Regions from separate parts of the Homo sapiens genome. Here region 1 is linked to region 2. Evidence: fine-mapped QTL for protein levels in blood plasma. A gene starts in region 2. The other region holds a variant in brackets. All regions are shown on one strand. Distances are between the middles of the regions.

Region 1 (2,906 bases), 450 kb before region 2:
TGCTAAATCCAGAAAAGACAGTGGTGAACAAAACAAACCTGGTCCCTGTTCTTGAGGAGGTTGACAGTAAACAAGTGACTCCTATGGACAAAAGTTTAGAATGTCAGGGGAGCTTAGAATGGAAACACTGCCCTCACCTGGCAGTTGGAGAGGGAATGGGTTCAGAGAAGGATTTCCAGAAAAAGTAACATTTGAGTTAAGATCTGAAGAATGCAAATGAGGTGAAGAGTTAATTTGGTGAAGAAGGGGGGGAAGAATTTTCTAGACAGAAGTAAGAAGGAGTATGTCAAGTTCAAAAGACTGACAGCACAGAGCTGGAAGGATAGAGGCAGGAGATGAGGTTGGAACCATGCTCAGGTGTCCAGCTGTGCATTGTCTGGTAAGCCACTTTAAGGGTTCCTGGCTTTACCCTAAGAGTAATGGGAAGCTGGCCAGACACCATAGCTCACGCCTGTAATCCCAGCACTTTGGGAGGCCGAGGCGGGCAGATCACCTGAGGTCAGGAGTTCGAGACCAGCCTGGCCAACATAGTGAAACCTCATCTCTACTAAAAATACAAAAATTAACCAGGCTGCACCTGTAGTCCCAGCTACTTGGGAGGCTGAGGCACGAGAATTGCTTTAACCTGGGAGGCAAAGTTTGCAGTGAGTCAAAATCATGCCACTGCACTCCAGGCTGGGCAACAGAAGGAGACTCTGTCTCAAAAGAAAGGCCTGGGCACGGTGTCTCATGCCTGTGATCCCAGCACTTTGGGAGGCCCTGGTGGGCAGATCATGAGGTCAAGAGATGGAGACCATCCTGGCTAACACGGTGAAACCCCATCTCTACTAAAAATACAAAAAATTAGCCGGGCATGGTGGCACATGCCTGCAGTCCCAGCTACTCGGGAGGCTGAGGCAGGAGAATCTCTTGAACCCGGGAAGCGGAGGTTGCAGTGAGCTGAGATCGTCCCACTGCACTCCAGCCTGGCAACAGAGCAAGACTCCGTCTCAAAAAAAACAAAAAGTAATGGGAAGCCATTGGAGGTTGTTAAGCAGGAAGACACAGCATCAGATGAACATTTTTCAAAGTCCTTTCTAGCTGAAGCAGGTTAGAGCAGTCATGGAAAAGACCTTTCAGGATATGGTTTCAGCAGCCCAAATGAGAACAGATGGTGATGTGGACTAAGGTGGGGACAGTGGAGAAGTAGGCAGAGTTGAGAGAGATTTAGAATTAAGCCGGCAGAGTTGAGAGAGATTTAGAAGTAAGCC[G/A]AGGGACCTGGCAATTGATGGGAATTCATGTCTATTATTTCAATTGCTCCTCTTCCATCTCAATCCAATGGATAAGAACCAGAATGGGCCCAGTCACTGGCGGGAGCTGTTTATGAGATACTGCTTCTCACCCCAGATTAAAAACCATAGCTTAGCCAAACATTGAAAGGGAGAAAGGATCCAAATGTGGAGAGAGAACCTGGATATATGCCAAAGCTTAAGCAGCCAAAAGCAGAAATCTCTATCAAGGCCTGGGATCAAGAGTTCTGATACAGGAAGAGCTAATCAATCAAGAGCAAATAAAAACAAAGGGCATAGTAGGAAGGTTAATGCTTGTGGTGCTCCTCATGAGCTGAAAGAGCTAACATTTATTGAGCCAGGAACTGTACCAAAAACTTTACATACATTATCTCATTGCTTTCTCACAACAAATACTATTATCTTTATTTTACCAATGAGGAAACTGAGGTTGGGGGACATATTCAGAGTCATATGGGTGAGGCTCAAATCCAGGAGTATTTGATTCCAAATGCTAGTGTTTCTAATCAAAACCTAGACTCTCTCTTTCTCCTTTTTTTTTTTTTTTTTTAGATGGAGTTTCACTCTTGTTGCCCAGGCTGGAGTGCAATGGCGTGATCTCGGCTCACCACAACCTCCACCTCCCAGGTTCAAGCAATTCTCCTGCCTCAGCCTCCCTAGTAGCTGGGATTACAGACATGTGCCACCTTGCCTAGCTAATTTTTTTTTTTTTATTTTTAGTAGTGACGGGGTTTCTCCACGTTGTTCAGGCTGGTCTTGAACTCCCGACCTCAGGTGATCCGCCCACCTCAGGCTCCCAAAGTGCTGGGATTACAGCACCGCACCCAGCCTTTTTTTTTTTTTAAAGCAACAGGGTCTTGCTCTGTCATCCAGGCTGGAGTGCAGTGGTGCAGTCATAGCTCACTGCAGCCTTCACCACCCGAACTCAAGCAGTCCTCCCACCTCAGCCTCCCAAGTAGCTGGGACTACAGGTGTACGCCACCATGCCTGGCTAGCTTTTTTTGTTTTTGTTTTTGAGATGGATTCTTGCTCTGCCGCCAAGGCTCGAAGGCAGTGGCAGGATCTCAGCTAACCGCACCCTCCACCTCCTGGGTTCAAGTGATCTTTCCACCTCAGCCTCCTGAGTAGCTGGAATGACAGGCACGCACCACCACTCCCAGGTAATTTTTGTATTTTTAGTAGAGACAGGGTTTTACCATGTTGGCCAGGCTGGTCTTGAACTCCTGACCTCAAATGATCCACCTTCCTCGGCCTCCCAAAGTGCTGGGATTACAGGCGTGAGCCACCACACCCGGCCCTGGCTAGTTTGTTTGTTTGTTTGTTTGTTTGTTTGTTTGTTTTGTAGAGATGGGGTCTTGCTATGTTATCCAGGCTGTTCTCAAACTTCTGGGCTCAAGCGATCTTCCCACCTTGGTCTCCCAAAGTGCTGGGATTACAGGCATGAGCAACCACATCCGGCCAAAAATCTAGACTCTTAATCATTGTGCAAACTGGTCTCCCAAATTATTAGGCCTCTTGGAAGACAAGAGAGTTTTCATTACTCTGGTAAGAATAACCATTCTGGAATAATCTCCCTGGTATTTGTGATAGCATTTATTTTATAAAACACATTTGATA
Region 2 (2,903 bases):
GTGGCTCATACCTGTAATCCTAGCACTTTGGGAGGCCGAGGTGGGCAGATCACGAGGTCAGGAGTTTGAGACCAGCCTGACCAACATGGTGAAACCCCGTCTCTACTAAAAATACAAAAATTAGCTGGGCGTGGTGGTGTGTGCCTGTGATCCCAGCTACTCAGGAGGCTGAGGCAGGAGAATCACTTGAACTCGGGAGGCGGAGGTTGTGGTGAGCCGAGATCGCGACACTGCGCTCCAACCTGGGCAACAAGAGCGAAACTCCATCACAAACAAAACAAAACAAAACAAAACACAACAAGCAAACAAACAAAAAAACAAAAGCGAAAAGAATGGCTGGGGCAGCCTAGGGCAGGTACACGTCTTTGTCCTCCCCACCCCCGTCACCAGGTCCTCGTAAACAATGATAGAGGGAGGAGATACGGAGGGGCAAAACAAACCCCCTCCTCCATAGGCCCCAATTCTCCCTTTCCCCACAGCTCCAAAACCTTTCAACCCCTTTCCTCTTTTCTGCAGATTTTATTTAGTCATAGGCTGGGGGATGGAGAAGGGGACCATAGATTCCCAAGCAGCCATTCCACTGGGACTCATTTTGGTTGTCTGATAGTCCCAGCAACCTGTGCCAGCCATGTTGAGGAAGGGCTCTCTCGGTTCAGACTCCCAATTCCTGGACTTAGACCCACATGATTGTTTGAACCTTCCTTCCTCTCGCCACTCATTCTTCCAGGGCACCTGCCACTTTTCTTTCTCATCCGCGTGCCTCCCCCTCCCTTTCATTGCATGCACTTCTTGTTGCATTTTCTGCTGCTTTCTTGGCCTCTCCTCCTGAATGATCATTCCTGCTCACCACGCTTGGGACTCCTGAGGAAATGGTGACCCAGTTTCCTGGAACTACTTACCCCAGAAAGATCCGGACCAACCCCAGCTCTACTTACAAAGGGGAGAATTGGAGGTCAGAAGCTATGCATGAAGGTGGGGAGAGCCCACAGGGTCTTATGAGGCCAGAGACCCGACAGCGCCCTTGGCACTACCTCCCTGCCAGCTGCTCCATCCCCCTTTCTCGTTCCTGCCCTACAGAGACAAGTGGACTCACTTGGCTGGCTGCGAGAAGCCGAAGTAATGATAAGGATGAGGACAAGGAGAGACAGGGCAGCCTCGGAGACCTTCATCCTCTCAGCGAGGCAGTACAGCTTCAGGGAGAGCCGAATGAAGATGTTGTCTGTTGCTGGTGGTCCGCTTGCCAACTACTCAGCTCTCTGGACCTTGACCGCATCAGAGCCGGTAGAGGAGGAGAAACAACAGGCCTCAGTGTTTGCTGAAACAGAGGGCAGCAGAGGATGGGACTTGGTGCAGAGCTGAATTCAGTAGAATCTGAATTCACGTGAAGAAATGGGCGAATGTGTGTCAGCTACCTTACATGCCCTATCTTATATAATCCTTAAAATAGTGAATAGCGATTATTACTTCCCTGGGACTACTGAGGCCTAGAGGCTAAATAAATTGTCCAAGGTCACCTGGGTGGATAGGCGGATGAAAAACCAGATCTGTTTGATTTCACCATGTTACCTGCCACCATCTGTATGTTGGGGAAGGGCAGGCAGGGTTGAACCACCCCAGCTTCCCCCAGGTGATCAGTCTTGGGGAGATGAGCACAAAGCAGGATTACAGAGCCCAGACTGAGGCAAAGGTAGGGCTTAGTTGCCTCTGAGAAGGAAATGCCCTCTCCCAGTCCAAGGCCACATGATTGAGCTCACACTCTTTCCTGTCACAGTGTATGCTAATACTCCAAAAAAAAAAAAAAACAATGTGCCTGATCCTTGGGTCCCCATTTGTTGCTGGACCGTTTGACTTATTTGTCAATGTTTTTATTTATCTCTTTGGACCTCGGACTTTGGACTGATTTTTAGGTGTAGCCAGCTCGCTGATCCCTCCTGGGTGCCCCCATGGCCAACCATGACCAGCAGGGGACCCTCCAACTCTGTGCACCTGACAACCTGCGTCTGTGCTCCAGGACTCCAGCTTCTGCCCCTCTGGCCTGGGCTCTGGCTGGACCTGTCCCACAGCTTCCTCTCTCTTCAGGTGCCTCAGGACCCTTTTCCATGTTGAAAGCTGCATTTAGAGAAGAGATCAAAGATATAAGGGATTTTGCTGTTGATGGACAGCAAGCTTTAGAGGCATAGGTGATGTGTTTCAGGTGTTGAGGGCAGTGGGAGGCAGGGGCAGAAACAGGGACTGTGCAGATCCTTATGGGGCTTTCTGCTTGGCATGACTGCTCATAGATAGGTAAACCGTATAATGCAGTTACTCCTGGTGGGTTCAAGGCTTCACCTGGTGGTGAAGCTGTGGCTTTTTGTGAGGGCAGGGAGGGTACGTATGTGGGGCATCCTCTTGACCTCTGTTTATGGAGGTGACAAGGCCTGAGAAGCCTGGTTGTGACTTTGGCATGCAGGCCCCCATATGGCCCTTAATGTGGCCCACAAGCCCTTCCTTATCTGTGGAAGGCTGGAGGCCAGGAAAGGGTGGTCATAATCCCTACTCTGGGCAAGCTCTTATTCCAAGTACACAGAGCTCCTCCTTGGGCCCTGAAGATAGGTTTGAGAGCTTATTCTTGGAGCATAGTCCTCCTCTTGATTTCTGTCTTATTCCATCTGTCCCTCTATCCCTCCCTCCCTCTTTCTCTCCATCCATCCATCCATCCCTCCCTCCCTTCCTCCCTCCCTTCCTCCCTTCCTCCCTCCCTTCATCCCTCCCTGCTTCCCTCCCTCCATCCATTCCTCCTTCCCTTCATCCTTCCATCCACACATTCTTCCCTTCCTTCATCCATCCATCCATCCATCCATTTCCTGAACACCTGGTATGGGCTAGGCTTTCTGCTAAGCCTTCTAGGGGATAAAAAAGTTAGT

What was found. A credible set is the group of variants that fine-mapping cannot tell apart. PIP is the posterior inclusion probability: the model's chance that the variant is causal. Protein levels are from the aptamer-based SomaScan assay of Sun 2018.
Region 1: its variant is the best candidate, but not a certain one, in a credible set for the plasma level of the CCL16 protein (Sun 2018, PIP 0.87).

The regions. Positions count from the first base shown.
Region 1 is chr17:35,533,370-35,536,275 of GRCh38, forward strand. The region is part of intron 1 of SLFN12L (schlafen family member 12 like); the gene reads right to left. Among named protein-coding and RNA genes, the nearest start is that of SLFN12L, 2.9 kb to the right of the region's middle. The variant G/A (reference allele first, on the strand shown) is at 1,251.
Region 2 is chr17:35,980,252-35,983,154 of GRCh38, forward strand. CCL16 (C-C motif chemokine ligand 16) reads right to left here and starts at 1,246. Exons shown (of 3, transcript NM_004590.4): 1 at 1,094-1,246. The coding sequence starts at 1,169. RefSeq lists an enhancer at 1,761-2,056 and a silencer at 1,761-2,056.